Homo sapiens: one gene and its partner. The protein of the gene in region 1 purifies or fractionates together with the protein of each later gene. This does not show direct contact. Each region holds a gene or a part of one and is shown on either strand. Other genes may lie near its edges.

Region 1 (9,249 bases):
TCAAACCCGGAGTCCCCAGAGTCAAGGGGCCGCTGATACGTACGTCTCCCCGTGCAATGCCTCACTTCCAAAGGAGAAGCCAGGCCAGGACTGGGCCCCTTTCTACTTCGTTTCTGTCCTTTTCTGGGCTTTCCCTCAGAGGCAGAAACTGGGCATAATATTCGTGAGTGGGGATGTCAGATCAGGGGTAGAGGGCCAGAGAGATGGAGAAGGGAAGGAAAAATGATGACGAGCAGATCCCAGGAGGGACACAAGCAGCTGGGGGTGGAGATGGCCAGTGGCCGTGGTGGGGGCAGGGGGAGGTGTGCATGTCAGGGCAGGTATTTAGATGGATTTCTGGGTAGCAAGGAGAGTGGAAGAGAACAGGGGCAGGAGTTTTGGAGGTTTGGGGTTACCCTCACCAAAAAGACTGGCTCTGAGCCAGGCACAAGGTTCTCCGCAGTGAGTGTGTGTGTGTGTGTGTGCGTGTGTGTGTGTGTGTGCGCACATGCGCGCAGGAGGAAGCCATGTGGCGGTGTCTGGGGAAACTCGGGGACTTCCCTGGCCCCCGCTGCCCCCAGTGCCTCTGCTGCAGCCCATCCAGTGTCAATGTTTGAGGATCACATAGTCCACATTTTCTTGTGCCTGAGGCCGCTCCCCGACCCCAAACTGGATCAGCTCTGAGTAATGAATCCCCTCATCTTCTGGAAAATCTGGAATGACGTTCTCATAGTCGCCCTGAGAAAACCGCATGGTGGTTAGCCTGGCCCCACTGTCGCCAGCCTCCACCGCCGCTTTTCTCCGCATTCTCTCCTTCATTCCACCCGGGGGTCCAAAAGCCCAGGCGGGTGTCCTCGTGTCAGGAAACTGGCTGTGGCCGGCATCCAGGACCTGGAGGTACCTGCCTGGCTCTGGCCAGCTCTGCCGGAGCAACCGTCTCCAACACCCAACCTCTGCCACCACGGATGCCTACCCAACTCCTTCCTATGTGGGACCCACCACTGAGGCCAGGCCCTGTCCCCAGCCTTCCACAGCCCCTCTGGGGAGACCTGGGGAGACCCTCCTTACCACTTGGCGCTTGTGCAATGCTGAATAAGTGACCGTGTCATCGCAGTCCGGGGGAGGTCTCTGCATCTCTGAGGACTCTGCATCTCTGAGAGACAGGGCAGATAGACGACCACGCATGAAGCATCTCCCACGAACTCTCCTCCCTCTCAACACCCAGAGCCCCCAACAGCACCCCAACCTCAGCCCCTTATGTAAAACCTGTGGCCTCCCCAGTGCCCAAAGCTCACAGTAGGAGCTCGTGCAAATGTGCGTGGAGGGAGTAGGCGTGGGTGTGTATCATGAGGTCTTGATCTTTGTGATAAGAACGGACTGGGCATGTGTGCTGCTGACTTGAAGGAGCAGGTCCACTTCTGGAGACTGGCCCTTACCCAGAGGCTTGTTGCCGAGTGGGAATGAGGCAGAGCATGTATCAGGGTGCCTGGCATGGGCCTGGCACAAAGAGGGCAGGCGGGACAGAGCTTTTCCTCCCGCCTCCCTCCCAGGGTGCAGGGTCACCCTCCTGGTACCCTCAGTACCCAGTTCGTGGTATGTTCATCTCGGGAAAGCGCAGGGTGGTGTAGCTAATGCCATCTTCCATCATTGGATTGTAGCATCCCAGGGAGTGGGGGCCTTCAGAGAGGGGGGCCCTTCTAACCTGGGAGGGAGACGAGGATGAAGTGCTAACCACCTGTTCCCCAACCCTCGTCCCCTTCCCTGGCCTCTGACAGCCCAGGTCTCCTCAGAGGACATTTTATCCCCTTCCTTCACCTTGTTTCCCCACTCAGCTTCACAGTCTGCCTCATGCCTACCCTTTTTTTTTTTTTTTTTTTTTTTTTGAGGCAGAGTCTCAGTATGTCACCCAGGCTGGAGTGCAATGGCGCAATCTTGGCTCACTGCAACCTCTGCCTCCCAGGTTCAAGCGATTCTCCTGCCTCAGCCTCCCGAGTAGCTGGAATTACAGGCATGGACCATCACGCCCGGCTAATTTTTAAAATATTTTTTGTAGAGACAGGGTTTCACCATGTTGGCTACGCTGGTCTCGAACTCCTGACCTCAGGTGATCCACCTGCCTCAGCCTCCCAAAGTGCTGGGATTACAGGCATGAGCCATCGTGCCCAGCCCCATCCTACCTTTTTATTCCTCACAAAGAAGCTCTGGCCGCTGGAATTCTCCTGAAGCCCCTGCTGGCTCTGTGTCCTCTTCCAACTGAGAAATAAAGGCACATGTGTGAGGGTCAGGGACTCCACAGGCTGGAGGCTTCGAGATGGAGCAACTGGACACGGGCCTCTGCCAAGGGATAGAGGAGGTGGTGGGGGATGGCAGGAGCTCACCGTCGCTGGAGCTTGAGCCCACAGATTGCCAGGATGAGGATGGCGAGGCAGGACCCGAGTCCCACAGCCACTCGCCTGCCGATGGTCTCCGGGCTATCTGGGTGGAGAAAGGAGAGACCTTAATCAACTGAGGGGCCAGCTCTCCCTGGCAGCCTTTGCCTGGAAGGCATCCTGGACTTCTCTCTGCAGCCAGACTCGTCCTTCTCCCCTGCATGCGTGCAGGGGTGCAGAGGAAGAGGGTGACAACGGCCCCTGCTTGCTCTGGGCCTCCCTTTAGGAATAAGGCACTAATTCTCCTGAGGAGCTGCTTTTCCCACAGACGTGGCACGCCCAGAGCCTGTGACCCGCACCCGCATAAATGGGTGCAGCTCTTCACGGCAGTATAGCTGTGTGATCAGCTCTGAAAGTGCACCTGTCTTCCACCCAGCAATTCCACATGGGAATGCATCTTGCAACTGTCCTTGCAGGCGTGCCCAAAACAAGAGGCTGCAGACCTAGGCCCTGAAGAGGGCACTGGGAGGAGGATGTATGCAACCTTCATACGCGAGGACTCCATGGCCCCAGGAAAAAGAGGAGGCTCTCAGGCTGTCTGCAAAGGGGATACCCAGGGAACAATGGTTTTATATGATGGGATGTGTCTGTTACATTTCCAGATAACATGTTTCAGATGTTTTCCTTTGGCCTTCGGCCGTGCTGGTGATGGTTCCCTAGATTGACTGATTGATTGATTGAGACAGAGTCTCGCTCTTTCACCCAGGCTGGAGTGCAGTGGTGAGATCTTGGCTCACTGCAACCTCTGCCTCCCGGGTTCAAGCGATTCTCCTGCCTCAGCCTCCCGAGTAGTTGGGACTACAGGTGCGCGCCACCACACCCAGCTAATTTTTGTATTTTTAGTAGAGATGGGGTTTCACCATTGGCCAGGCTGGTCTGGAACTCCTGGCCTCAAGTGATCCACCCACCTTGTGGCCTCCCAAAGTGCTTGTGGCCACCCACTTTGGCCTCCCAAAGTGCTGGGATTACAGGCGTGAGCCACTGTGCCTGGTCAGGTTCCCTCAATTTAAGGCCATGTTTCCAATTATTAATCTGAAAAAGTACAATAAATTAATTAGGTATCTTCCATATGCTTTCAGACTCTTTTTTGTTGTTGTTATTGTTTTGTTTGTTCGTTTTTAAAATTTTTTTTGGTATTTTTTGTAGAGATGAGATCCTGCTATGAGGTGTGGGCTATGTTGCCCAGGCTGGTCTCAAACTCCTGGGCTCAAGTGATCCTCCCACCATGGCCTCTCAAAGTGTTGGGATTACAGGCATGAACCACCATGCCCAGCCTCCAGACTTTAGACACTCTGTGTATGCATAGATACAGAACAATGTCCAAACAGTATTATTACATGGAAAAAAGCAAAGAAAATTCCCAGGCAAAGTGTGGGCTCTGCCTCGTCTGTGTCATGAGGAAGGGTATATAGGCACAGACCTCTGTGTGTGAATTGTGCGTGTGAAAAATACCCCTGGAGGAGATGGGAAGACTGTGTGCAGTGAGATGGGAAGACTGTGTGCAGTGAGGACCTTTGGTGGGGATGAGAGTTCTCAGGGATCAAGAGTGAGCCGCGTCTGTCTTTCCACTATTTACCCTTTCATGCTTACATTTTATTTTTTTACCAGGTGCTTGTATGATCTGTTTAAAAACCACTCAAGTTTACTACTGTGGAGGCCGAGGCAGGAGTATCACTTGAGCCTAGGGGGTCGAGGCTGCAGGAGCTGAGATTGTGCCACTGCACTCCAACCTGTGCAACAGGGTGAGACCCTGTCTCAAAAAAAAAAAAAAAAAATCAGCCGGGTGCGGTGGCTCACGCCTGTAATCCCAGCACTTTGGAAGGCCGAGGCGAGCGGATCACGAGGTCAGGAGACTGAGACCACGGTGAAACCACATCTCTACTAAAAATACAAAAAATTAGCCGGGCATGGTGGCAGGCGCCTGTAGTCCCAGCTACTCGGGGAGCTGAGGCAGGAGAATGGCGTGAACCCGGGAGGCAGAGCTTGCAGTGAGCCGTGATCACGCCACTGCACTCCAGCCTGGGTGACAGATCGAGACTCCGTTTAAAAAAAAAATCATTTACGTTTTAAAAGATAAAAACAAGGAGCCTGTCAGGGCTGAGAGAGACAGAGTAGTCAGAGAGAGAGAGACAGGGACCCAGTAGGAGCTCAGGACTTCTGGAAGGTGGAGCAGCCTGAGAGGGGACCCTAGAGGGAGGCAGGAGAGACTGCAGGGGAGGTAGAAAAAGAGAGACTGGTGACGCAGGACAAGACGACTCCTCCAGCACAGCGGCAGATGGCCTGGAGCAAGGGGTGTGAATGGGAAAGGGGACAGTGAGGTGGGGAAGAAGGGGCCAGCTGGTCTGGAAGGCTTTTCGGGAAGTCACTGGAGGAGACAGGGCCAGAGAGGAGCATGAGAGGAAACAGGGAGAGGCACAGTGGCTCATGGCTCTAATCCCAGGGCTTTGGGAAGCTGAGGCAGAAGGGTCACTTGAGGTCAGGAGTTTGAAACCAGCCTGGTCAACATAGTAAGACCCCATCTCTACAAAAATGTAAAAATTAGCCGGATGTGGTGGTGCATGTCTATAGTCCCAGCTACTCAGGAGGCTGAGGCGAAAGGATTGCTTGAGCCCAGGAATTGGAGGCTGCAGTGAGGTGTCATTATGCGACTGCACTCCAGCCTGGGTGACAGAGTAAGACCTTGTCTCTATAAGAAGAAGAAGAAGGAAGGAGAAGGAGAAGAAAGAGGAGGAGGAGAGGGAGAAAGCAGAAGAAGAAGAAGAAGGAGGAAGAGGAGGAGGAGGGGAAGAAGAGGAGGAGGAAAAGAAAGAGAGAAAGAAAGGAAGGAAGGAAGGAAGGAAGGAAGGAAGGAAGGAAGGAAGGAAGGACTGACCACCACCAAGAAGAACAAGAGCAGGAAGAGGCCTTACAGTAGACGGTGAGGGTGCTGAGAGGCGAACGGCCCTTGCCCACACTGTTGGTCCCCTGGCACCAGTAGGCACCCGAGTGCTGGACCTTCACCGGCTCCAATCTCAGCTTCTGGCTGTGGTAGGGGAGGCTTTGGTTATTCCAGTCAAACCAGGTGTAGTGGGAGACGGGAGGGTTGGCGTCGCTCTCACAGGTCAGGGTTGCACTCTTCCCCTCCATCACTTGGTCCCCCGGGCTCATGGACACACGCAGCCTCCTGGGTGCATCTGCATGGCGGGCAGGGGGAGGGGGTGCGAAGTCACTACCAGGCAGGCCACTGGTCCCTTCTCTGCTCCACTCCCAGCCTCCGGCCCTCACTCACACAGCACTTCAAGTGTCCAGGCCTTGGACGCTGTCTGTCCTATGGAGTTGTTCACCCAGCAGCTGTAACTCCCAGCATCTTCTGGGGAGATGGAGTCAAAATTCAGCTGGCTTTCTTTCCCCAGAAGCCTGCCATTTTTCTCCCAGAAGAACTGGACTTCTTTGGGGTGGCTGCTTGAGAAGTCACATTGGAGGCTGACCGAGTTTCCAGAGTGAATCTCGGAAAGGGGCTTGATTTTCCGGACCCTCACGTCTCGGGGGGCATCTGGAGGGCAAGGGTCCCAAGCTGACCTCTCCGCTCCCTGTCCCTTTTGCTGTCCCCAGGCCTCCCCTCCCCTTGGCCCTGACGCCAGGCTCCTGTCCCTCAATTCTGTTGAAGACACTGGCCCAGGCTCCGGCCTCGTTGCCTTCATCCCCTCATCCCAGCCGGGCCACCTCCCAGATCCCCCTGCCTAGCCCAGGGACTCACACTGGACATTCAGGGCGACAGGGGAGGCCCACGAGCACCAACTATTACAAGCTGCGCAGGCGATGGTTGTGTTGTCCCAGCCAACGTTTTGGATCTTCAGCACCCCAAGCGATGGCTCCTCCCAGGCGCCATGGGGTTTCCATTCATACCGGGTAACACTGGGGTTACTGGAATTGTAGTTACAGGAAAGGGTCACTGTGTCTCCTTCTCGAATCGGCATGGGGTTTTGAATCACTGTGGTCACCTTCTTGGGAGGATCTGGAAGAAAACCAGAGAGGTGAGTAAAGAAAAGCCAGCTGTCCACAGTACCCCTTCCCTCCTGCTTCCTCTTCTCCCGCTACCTGTCCCGGGCATCTGCACAGGTCCTAAATTAATCAAAGGGGGGCTTGTGCGTCCTTCCTGCATCTGTGTGAGAACAGAAACCCTGCCCTGGCTCTCTGGCCTGGCTGTGGTTTGGTGCAGGGGTTCAGGGCACAGCGCTGAAGCCAGACGGCTGCTGAGAGGCGCACGGGCATGGGCTGCAGGTCTCAGTTTACACGTCTGTCAAATGGGGTCCTGAGGCCGGGCATGGTGGCTCACGCTTGTAATTTCAGCACTTTGGGAGGCTGAGGTGGGCAGATCACCTGAGGTCAGGAGTTCGAGACCTGGCCAACACAGCAAAACCCTGTCTCTACTAAAAATTTTAAAAATTAGCTATGCATGCTGGTGCATGTCTGTAGTCCCAGCTACTCAGGTGGTCGAGGCAAGAGAATCGCTTGAACCCGGGAGGTGGAGGTTGCAGTGAGCCGAGATCAAGCCACTGCACTCCAGCCTGGGCAACAGAGGGAGACTCCATCTTAAAAACAAGAGGCAGTGCGGGGTGGGTGGGGGGTGAGTCCTGAGAGTTCCTAACCTCCTGGGAATTGTTTCAAGAAGGAAATGAGATGACTCCCTTAGAGCAGAGTGTGGCGTGTGGCAAACACTCCACAAACATCACTGTGGCTGCTGTGGTCACGCATCCAGCTGTCTGAGATGCTCAGGATTTGGGCACCCCTGTCCTGTTAGCACATATGACATCTCAGGGTCCAAGGATCGAGCTTATGTGTTCTTTTTGTCCTGTGCTCTACATGGTAACAAGATTCACTGTGTTAAAAGGGTCTTACAATGGAGAGGTAATGAGACAGTTTGCCCCAGTTCTCATTAAAAATTTCAAGATCTCTCAAGACTCAGCCACTGCCTAGGGACGCTAAGTCTCTGTGTCCCTCATGGAGTCCTGGTATCTTGCAGTTAATTATTCTTTTTTTTTGGAGACAGAATCTCACTCTACCCAGGCTAGAGTGCAGTGACATGATCTCAGCTCATTGCAACCTCTGCCTCCTGGGTTCAAGCGATTCTCCTGCCTCAGCCTCCCAGGTAGGTGGATTTCAGGTGCCTGCCACCATGCCCGGCTAATTTTTTGTATTTTTAGTAGAGACAGGGTTTCGCCATGTTGGCCAGGCTGGTCTCGAACTCCTGACCTCAGGTGATCTGCCCACCTTGGCCTCCCAAAGTGCTGGGATTACAGGCGTAAGCCACCATGCCTGGCCAATCCATTCTTTTTTTTGAGACAAGGTCTCACTCAGTCACCCAGGCTGGAGTGCAGCGGCATGATCACAGGCTCACTGCAGCCTCTACTTCCAGGCTCAGGTGATCCTCCCACCTCAGCCTCCTGGGTAGCTGAGACTACAGGCATGCATGACCATGCCAGGCTAATTTTTTTTTGTAGAGATGGGGTTTTACCATGTTGCCCAGGCTGGGCTTGAACTCGTGGCCTCAAGTGAGCTGCCTACCTTGGCCTCCCAAAGTGCTGGGATTACAAGTGTGAGCCACTGTGCCCAGCTCACACCTATAATCCCAGTCCCAGCATTTTCTTTTTCTTTTTGAGACCCAGGTCTTGCTCTGTCACCCAGGCTAGAGTGCAGTAGCAGGAACATAGTTCAGTCTGCAGCCTTCACTTCCTGGGCTCAAGTGATTCTCCCTCCTCAGCCTCCCCAGTAGCTGGGACCACAGGCACGCACCACCATGCTCAGCTAATTTTTGTATTTTTTTGTAGAGATGGTATCTCGCTGTGTGGCCCAGGCTGGTTTCAAACTCCTGGGTTCAAGAGACCCTCCTGCCTCAGCCTCCTAAAGAGCTGGGATTGCAGGCGGGAGCCACCGCACCTGGCCTCATTCATTCAACAAGCATCTACAGGCCGGGTGCGGTGGCTCACGCCTCTAATCCCAGCACTTTGGGAGGCCGAGGCGGGTGGATCACGAGGTCAGGAGATCGAGACCATCCTGGCTAACACGGTGAAACCCCGTCTCTACTAAAAGTACAAATAATTAGCCGGGCGTGGTGGCGGGCGCCTGTCATCCCAGCTACTCAGGAGGCTGAGACAGGAGAATGGCATGAACCCGGGAAGGTGGAGCTTGCAGTGAGCCGAGATTGTGCCACTGCACTCCAGCCTGGGAGACAGAGGGAGACTCCATCTCAAAAAAAACTAAAACACAAAAAAACAAGCATCTACCAAGCACCCTCCATGAGCCAGGCCCTATGCTAGGAGCTGAGACAGCAGTTGTGAACAGGAGACCCTGGCTGCTCCTTGCTCTTGACTCCAGGACCCCGGAATGCCCTGCACCCCATCTGCCTTCCCCGTTCCCTGTGTCCATCTTCTCTCCCTAGAACCAGAGGCTCCGTGGCTACTCACACTGGACATCCAGCTCAGCTCCCGGGCCCCTCTGTCCAGTACCAAGAATGTTTTCTGCCACACAGGAATAAGTCCCAGCGTGCCAGGGGAGGATCTTTGGGATGTGGACTTTCTCCTCTGTCCTTCCCTGCATTTCTTTCCCATTGTGGTACCACGTGTAATTTGTTGGAAGAGGATTGGCCAGTGACATGCAAAGAAACTCGACTTGACTTCCCTCCACAGCCGGTGAGTGGAGGATCTGAACCGTGGAAGGTTCCGGGGCATCTGGAAGAGGGGGCAGAGGCGAGTGGAGGGGTGAGGAGAGCACCCCCAACCTGTGCACACGGCCCCGAGAGCCCCCGTGGCTCCCCTCTCCGGGTCCACCCCTGCTACCTCCCTGCCTGGCCTGTCCCCAGCTC
Region 2 (9,249 bases), on another chromosome or scaffold:
AATATCCTATTATATGCTTAAATCAGAGTGTGAAATATTTCCTTTGTGAATAAAAATTCAACTCATTCTATTACAGGATGTTTTTTTAACCATAAGACACATCTTTGAATTTATAATTGAAATAATATGATGGGGTCTAGAAACCTTTATATCAACTTTGCTGAATGATTTATACCATAGCAAATAAATGGATATACATAAATTTATTTTGAAAACTCAACTTTATCTTCAGTTGCTCACATAAATATTGAGAGCAAACATTTTTCTAAAAGACATTTGTAGACTCCCTGAGATATATGCTTATTTGTGGAAAAACATATACAGATATAATCATTTGTATCTGCAAATATTGTTTATAATCCTTTCAAGTTGCAAGAAACATTTTGTGATTTAATGTATAATTTGGAAAATTCTTAATGCTTTAAATTATTTATTTTTCTTTTTTAGCAACAAATGAGTTGGATTCTATGTTTCATTTTAACGTGTTAAAATTAGTTTAGTGCCTACAGGAAATAATAAACTTTTGGGGAACAAAATTTATATTGTATGCTGTAAAGGCATAAAGAAATAGAGCCAAATGTAGAGAGCCATCAATGGTAACTCTATGCATAATTCAAATATTTTATTTAATATCTAAAATGCACACACGGACAAGGCCAAAGTTAATCTTTGCCACGGCAACAACCAGGCAGGGTTCAGTTTTACTCAAGACTTCCTAATCCTCTTGCTCTGTGCCTCTTTGCCATGGCAACTGGAAGCCAAACTTTGTTTAGAATTTCTAAATAATGTTAGGGGACAATGATGGTTTTAAGAAGGCAGGTGAAGGTGAGTGTTCTCTGGTTCTAATAAAGTTGTAATGCCAGGCAGATCTACCACACTATAGCATGGCAGTTAGGAGTATATGAGTTATGGTATGTGAGGTATATGATGAGTTTTGTTATGAGTCATAACAGTTAAGACTCATTTCCTGGACATAATTCTTCATTTTTCCATCTGTATTAAAAATATATATCTCATGTTATAAACATGGACTGTGCCTTGCACATCACAGACATTCAATGAAAATTATTTAATTGAATTTGGTAAGCAGTCCTATTAAGTTCTAAATACTCCATAATTTAGAGATTTGGGAATGTGATTAGAATTACTTATTAATTTGAAAAAAAATGTCCTACTAAAAACCTGCCTGTGACCTTTATCATTGCTAAAGTTTGAAATGTACTTTGTTACAGGAAAGACTACGGCTAGGGCCTATATTATCTTTTTCTCTTTTGTTCTGTGTAAGTAAGTATAGGGGCAGAGTAGTTAGCTTGAACTTAGTTCTTTCTTTGTTCTGGACTATTTGCTATCCTCTCACCAGTGACAATTAACCAGTATAGAAATATAGATGTTTCTACATTGTTCATATACTTGAACATATATTTCTTTATGTAGATACTCACACATAAACTAGTTATATATTTGTGGGTTATATATACTAGTCAATCTATCTATCTGTCTATCTATCTATCTATCTATCTATCTATCAGTTCTCCATGTTTGTCTATTTGGCGTTCCCATGAACTTCAGACCTTCGCCTGTGTTCTCTTTTCTCCATTTGGTTACGTATCATTGCCTACTATGTGTTGATCACTCTGATTCTCCATCTCTAGACTCATCCCTCAGAAACACGGAACTTACTACCTTTCCTAAATCCAGACATTAACATGCTCCCCAAGTCCTGAAATTTTGCTTTGTAATAATCTCTAATAACTTCTTGCTTTGACACCTCCATTGCCATCATCTTAATTCATGGCTTTATTATTTCTCACCTGTAAAATTGTAATAGTTTTTTTAATCAGTCTGAAGTCTCATCCTTTTTTTAATGTAATCTACAGCTTAAAAAGTAAAATAAAAAGTGAAGGGTTACTGATTTCTTCTCATTGCCTTTGGTATAAATTCTAATCTTTTTTGCCAGAGAAACTGGTTCCACTAATGATCTGGGGGCTAGGCCTGGAGCTGGGAAGGGATCTTTTTTCTTTTCTTTCTTTCTTCCTTTCTTTCTTTCTTTCTTTCTTTCTTTCTTTCTTTCTTTCTTTCTTTCTTTCTTTCTTTCTTTTTTCTTTCTTTTTCTTCTATGATTGATTAAAAGAAAACAAACAGGAGGTAGTTTTAACACCCACCTCTATACTTTCTCAAGGTGTTTAAGGTTCTGGGCAAATCCTACTTCTTCTATTATGTTCTCTTATGTCACTTTTGCCACAAAATATTTCCATTGAATTGCACACTTTTTATCACCTTTTCTTGGCATTTTTCAAGTCATTTCAATCTGCTCTTTTTTGTGATGATGATTGATGATGATGATGACATGTGAATTAGTGGATTTCTTGACATTGTAACCTACATGAAATCAGGTATAGGAGACACAAAAGGCATAAACTCATAGTTCCCATACCTAATTTTTCACCAGACACTGAATAAATCATAGATTAAAAAAATAAAACTGCATATTGTAGTGACAAAGGAAAGGAAAATTTTCAAAGAGGGAAGTCAAAAAGAGGGAGAATATGAGATAAAAAAATTAACCAGAGGCGAAGTGGGAGGATGAAGACAGCAGGACTATTTTGTCCAGATTAAATTAAGTTGATTTTGGATCTAGATGTTTACAGTCTTGCCTTTTTGTTTTTGTTTGTTTGTTTGTTTGTTTTTTCTTTGCTCCCTTTCTTACTCTCCTTATCTCACCTCTCGTCTGGAAAGAGCCTCCTGACTTCCTAAAAGTTCATAGTTTGAGAATGTTTTTCCTAAATTTTCTTTGATCTGCTCTTTGGACATTCTAGGTAATGTAATTTGGAGGGTCAATTTTATTTTTCAGATACACATACCCATAGGAGAAAAAGCAAGGAATGGGAGGGAAATACAAATGTAGCGGAGTGATAACACAAACAGATCAGGTCCAGTCATGGCAATTGCTGGTTTGAACACTGATGCTAGTGCTCTGGGATTGCTTGCAAGGGCAGATGGAATATGGTGCACCCTAGGTGTTGCATTATTTGCACGACAAAAGTTTGTAGAGAGCTGGGAATAATTTCTTTACAGACAGTGTGGTGATGAATGTCAATCTGAGTAGGTAAGGGGCAGAGATTTGTACTGAGGTTGATTCATTCTCTTGGTAAATACACAATGTTCACAAAGGCAAGGTTTCATCTTCAGACCATGTGTGTATATGTCACCTTGGTGCAGAGAGAGAAATTTTTCATCAGTGCTGACCTTTGATTTTTTTTTCTAGACATCTTATAGATTTATGTAGTTATTTACATGGGAAACAATTAGAATGGAAATTTAACATATCTTCAGTTTAAAATTAATTTCTGTCTAGTCTAAATATCTTTGTAAGTACTAGATACTCAATCCCATAGCAGTGGCCTTTTACCAAAGGCTTAGTGCTATGACTTTTGCATACATAAAGACCTCACTTTTTAAGATATGATACACCAGAAAAAAAATATGGCAAGACTTTAGCAATATGATTTGATGCCTATTTCTATATAATACCCAAATATACAGGAATAAAAATTATGGCAATCACTGGATTTTGTGTACCTGGCTCTAACCAATATTTATATTAGAAAATATCTAATTATTGTCTAAAATATTTAATCTTCATTCCTGTTTGTATGTCAGTGTGCTACTTCAATATCAGTCTGTTAAAAGAGTCTAGGAATGACTACTATAAGCAGAGAATTATATGTTCAGGAATCACAACAAAAAACAAGAACAAATAGAGAAACAAAAGCTTTCCTACTCTTTCATCTAGGACAAGAATAAATACACATAAAGTCAATATTAGTGAAGTAAACAAGCATCTTCTATATCCATTCATAGTACCTTCAATTGATTGATTTCTTAACAGACAATCAGCAAAATTATCAGTTTTTATTAGAGATTTTAGTAGAGACCGAGCTTAAACAAATATATTCTATGGTGCTTAACTCTATAGTATTTAAAGATTCAATATTTATTTCCTCTAAAAATGAGTCAAGTGTCTGAAAGGAAAAAGCCACCTAACTGAAACTTCAGTTTCTACTATACAGGGTATTTATTATAAAACTGTAATTACAATGCAATTATATTGAAGTATAAATGATCATCATTCATTTATTTAAGAATATAATCAAAATTTGCATACCTGGAAGAAAACCATCCACCCTCCAAAATAGGGATTTGCTAATGTAGGAGTAGAAGGCAAAAGTTGAGGGTAACTCAGGTAACACACTCATACGTATTAGGATATGAACAGCTGGTATAGCAAACTTGATAGAAATCACTGATAGACAAGAAGACATTCTCTGCATTTTAAATTAAAGTACAATTTGTCTGTGGTCATTCAAGAGATAGTTTAGAGAAACCTATACAAATAACAATGATGCTAAGAGACAATATCAAAATCACAATAAATATCATGGCAATACAGTGTGGCCACTATATTTTAAACACATCCACTTGATGAAAAATATAATAATTTACTGATAAAACATATTAAGCATAATAGAAAATGAGGCAGAAACCACTCCAAGCTGGGAAACATCATGACATCTGTAGTGATAAATATTTTGAAAATCTAACTCTATGAATCTTGTGATTTTTAGCTAAATCAATTTTCACCCTTGAGACCCAATTTCCTCATCTATAAAGTGTTGTAAGCATTAAAAGTTATAATATTTGTGAAAATGCTTTGAAATTATGTGATACTCTGAGAAGTAAATTTTTTCATGTGAGCCCATGAAATCAGAGCACATAGCCTTTTAGCATAAACTTGATTCCAAATGATATCTCTTCCTTTCAGACACTGTGAGCAGATAAAGGGATAGTTTAAGGTTAAGTGATAGAGGCATAATCCCTTATAGGCCTTTGAATTCTTTTAACTTTGCATTCTTTATTTCAGAGATTTTTCAGGCTTCTCCAGATTCTACAGTCTAAATAGTTTGTAAATCCACACACTTCTACTTTGCCAGGGATTTCTTAGTGTAAAAATATCCTGAAGTCTCACCTGCCTTCAATCCTTACTGTGTCCATACCCACCATTACCAGGATAATCTTTGTAAAAGGCAGAACTTACCTTTGTCCATTCCTCTTTTAAAAGCTCCTATTGGTAGAAAATATACTGAACCCGTGATTTGATACCAAGTATGTTTTGGCTCAACTTTTATGAAAACAAATATTTAATTAGAATATACCAACATTTATGAGTTTTCCTTAAAGATAAATTTTGGAGGAAAAAAACTCCATTAGACCAATTTAATTCCCTGATGATTATATATATATTACCTAGTGAAATCCTTGGCAGTTTTTCCATTTTAATTTTAATTTTACTGAACTAATGTTTAGCAGCATCACTTTCATTTAATTTTTACAATAACTATTAGATTCATGAATCCATTTTACCCATGTCAAGTTCTACTGAATATAGCTTATGCTTGGAATTTTCCTTTGTGATTATTACTTTTCTAAAGGTAATTCTTCTTTTCAAACAATACAGATCTAAATTTTCCAAAACCATTTAAATTCTTCTCTTTGGCCAGAAACATTTTCTGTGTGTAGTTTTGGCTACCGCTAGTTTAGTTTTTTTAATTGGTTTTGTGTCTCAATGCTACAAAAAATATAATTTATGTAATTTTTCATTTTTGTCAAACTTAAATCGGGCAATATTAACCATTCTCAATTTTTTGTTGTGTTGAAATTTCTATCAGTGACATTAATGTGGAGATTGACAGCTCTTTGAGCTAGATTCATTTTGAAATTTTAAGACTTTCGATTATTTCTTATCTAGCCAATAGAAACTTTAGAAACACTTTTAAGACTGCTTGATAGCCTGGAATTATTATGTTTGAATTCTCATTCATTTGTATGGTATTCCTCTTATTAGCTTTCACACTTAGTACCAATTTCTTATTCATTATTGGAGCAAAAAGTAAAGAGAAGAATCAAGGTGATAAGTTTAAAATCTTCTCAATGTAAAATAGTGTGTGGGGAAAGTGTCAAATCATCCTACTTTGGTCTTTGTGCATTTAGGAAAAATAAAAGCAATTAGCATTGCACACACATATGTAATTGAATCTCTTCAGATTTGTCTGGCTTTATCTCTAACCACTTTGTGACTCTTTTTGTAACTTGCATTTTTCTAAAAATGTGACCTTGTTTGGTCTTCCTACTGTTGGCCATGCTGTTTTTCCTTCTCTCCACATCTTTTTATCAATGGTGCAAATTATAAATTGTATTCAAATTTACTGTAAAGATCATGTCCTCTAGACAGCCCCTATCCCACTTGTATAACCCTTGCTCTTCAGCCCCTTTCACACCTGCATAGGTATTCTTCTGCTGTGATGATCCTTTGAATAATTCTCTTGGAGTTCTCTTTACCAGGCTCTCTTGCAGCAACTGGTGAGCTCATGTAGGCTATCACTGGGTCTCTGCTTATTTGCCAGTGCCTGCAGGTCCTCAGTACCTGTTTGCTGAACAAACGAATGGTCTGTCAGCTTAACCCAACTCTGTATGTAGAAGGCACTTAATAATTCTTAAAAACAATTTTGATTCTGTCCTTTTATTGTTATTTATGGGAATTATTTATGGTAAAAATTTCTACATAATAGAAAATTTGGAAAATGTCAAGAAATAGAAGGAAAAAGAAATTGCTTAGAGCCCATGCTAACATTTTGTTTTTCTTCCTCTATCTTTTGATCACATGCTGTGTATGAAATTTCATGTTCAATTTTTTCCCAAGTAAACCTTGATTATTCTAGACAATTTGAAAAATATAGAAATGAATAGAAAAATAAGAATTTCAGGTTTCCAGTTCTCAGGATCTAAAAACTTTTTGAGTATTTCATTTGACTAGGACAACTAGATCTATTCAGTTATTTATTAACTTATTAGTTCATTTGATAAACAACTATTTTGTGAGTGTTTTCCATGTAATTTGGGCTGAGGACACCTATCCCATGAAGCCCGTATTTTCTATCAGTGGCTTCTTGGAGATGGTGTTTTAAATCTTCCAAAATCTTCATCAGCACCCCAAAACTTCCTCCTCAAAGTAACAACATACCTTGCTACAGATAATTATTGGTGTTATCAATGTTTTATAAATTATAAATTTAAAAATCACTATCTTAAGATCTATATATAACATATTAAGTAAAACTTATATTCTTACAAGACTTCCTCCAGGTCCCTGTTACAACCAGATTTTCTTTGCAGACTTTTAAATTATGGAAGTTCTGGTGCTGCCACTGAGTTGTGTAGATTATTATTAGATATTCAATAAATAAAGTTGGTAGATGTGAAGAGGTACTAGACAATAGTCCTATTTTGTTTTGGTTTGTTTGTTTTGTAATTTATTCTGAAAAAATGTTTATGTGGAGAGAAAAGGGAAAACATACAGAAATACACAGCACACAAACAAATTCTTACTTTTTTTTGGTAGTCTTTCTAATTTTCCAAGGTCACCAGCTAATAGCAAATGAGAGTTGTAGGGGGTGGGGTGAAGGCTGGGGTCTTAATCGGGGTCTATCTGATTCTAGATAGACCAGATTCTAGATTTTCCACTCGGTTACTCAATCTTCTTAGTGGTCAGTTTAATAACCTGGAATTTAAGACATGACTGTGTGATGATGGGCAAATCACAGCAGGACTGAATGGGAGCTGGTAATTTCTCAGAGGTTGTTTGTGTGACATATGCATGTAAGTTCATTCACCTGATTTAGCTACTTACATGAACCATTGTGCACTGAGCTGCTTCTATATCTTTAGCATATTCTGTATCTATGTAAAATTCACATAAGATTGTATGACTTTTATAAAAAACAAAAAGACATCTTTGATTAATTTGTCTTCACTATGAATACTGATGTGATGTGTTACAATCATCCTGAAAAGGAGGCTAACAAAGGACAGGACTGAGTCTGTCTTGAGGTGAGTGATATGATGGAAAGAATGGATTTTCCCCCACCCAACTCATTTTTGATATTACATAAAGTGAAAAACATTAAATAATTCACCAAAGTATCTAGATTTTTTTTTGTTTTTGAAGTGCAAGGGAAGTAACTTGACCTTTGTTAAACACTTTGATCATGGAAAACACATAAGGTTCTCATCTTATTCCAGGAAGTGTAGACACTAGATAATCTTTTCATAGTCATCCAAAAAGCATATTAAGTGAACCAGGTAAATCCATCCTACACTTTTTATTCCAGAGACAAGTTGGCTAAACTTTGAGGAGACTAAAACAAAACAAAAAAAAATTATTGTTTGGTTCATTTGATAAATGTGGATTCCAATCATATAATTTAGGCCAAATATTATACTTTGACTTCTTAGACTTAGATTTCCAGATAGTCTGGTTTATAAAATAAGATTTTAACTATGCTTACTAAACTCTATGTATTTCTACTTTCCAATGACCCATGTTCTTATTTTCTGAATTTACTTATTGATGCTTTAGGTATGATAAAGGTATGTAATGGCTAAGGAAACATAAATGAAGCATAAGACATCAGTTGAGAGTTTTGACGGAAAGGAAGTGGTGATATGAAGGAAACAGATAAACCAAAGAAAAAGGAAAAGGTCAGGGAGCTGATAAAAGTAACTTGAAGAAACTTTAGTGCAAATGTTGGATTCAGACAATCGCTACTTTTAAAGTACTTAAAGAAGTCAGTCTTTGAAATCTTGCCCGGATTCCATTCCAGTTTCATCATTGGAGACTTCCAATGATGAAAAATTGGGGAAGAATTACCTTCCAAAGCCTCAGTTTCCTCGTGTGTAAAATGGAAATAATAGCAAGAGATATTAAATGAGATGATTCACTCATCGATTCATCAATTGTTTATAGAGCCCCTGCTAAGCTAAAAACTGTTTTAAGTGTTGACACAGTGGTAAAGAAAGCAGAAAGTGTAACTACTTTTATGAAACTGACTTCCTAGTGGTGAGAGATAACAAGAAAACAAACAACAAATTGAGATAACTTCAGTTATAGATAAATGCTGTGAAGAAAATTAAGTAGTGTAATATGGTAGAGTTTAATCTGGCCAGACCCAGATTTAGGGGTGAATGCACTTTTAGACAGAGTGATCGGGGAAGATCCTTATGAAGAAGAATCATTGAGCTACCTGTTGGCTGACAAGAATATGGGGATCCATGTGAGGGAGACTGGCAAGAGTAAAGGTTATCTGGCAAAACCAAACAAATTGGTAGGTTCGAGGCACAGAAAGGTCAGGCATC

The links.
Region 2: the proteins of CD22 (region 1) and PTPRC purify together in Homo sapiens (affinity purification with western blotting; 2 studies listed by BioGRID and IntAct, with this or other methods). This does not show direct contact.

What each region holds. Positions count from the first base shown.
Region 1 is NC_000019.10:35,338,034-35,347,282, reverse strand, and holds part of CD22 (B-cell receptor CD22 isoform 1 precursor), read right to left. Parts: intron 9,116-9,249; coding exon 8,852-9,115; intron 6,403-8,851; coding exon 6,145-6,402; intron 5,941-6,144; coding exon 5,677-5,940; intron 5,582-5,676; coding exon 5,318-5,581; intron 2,455-5,317; coding exon 2,358-2,454; intron 2,233-2,357; coding exon 2,157-2,232; intron 1,771-2,156; exon of another isoform or gene 1,682-1,770; coding exon 1,563-1,681; intron 1,133-1,562; coding exon 1,048-1,132; intron 718-1,047; coding exon 586-717; 3' UTR 1-585. UniProt on the Homo sapiens protein: Most highly expressed siglec (sialic acid-binding immunoglobulin-like lectin) on B-cells that plays a role in various aspects of B-cell biology including differentiation, antigen presentation, and trafficking to bone marrow.
Region 2 is NC_000001.11:198,640,874-198,650,122, forward strand, and holds part of PTPRC (receptor-type tyrosine-protein phosphatase C isoform 1 precursor), read left to right. Parts: intron 1-9,249. UniProt on the Homo sapiens protein: Protein tyrosine-protein phosphatase required for T-cell activation through the antigen receptor. Acts as a positive regulator of T-cell coactivation upon binding to DPP4.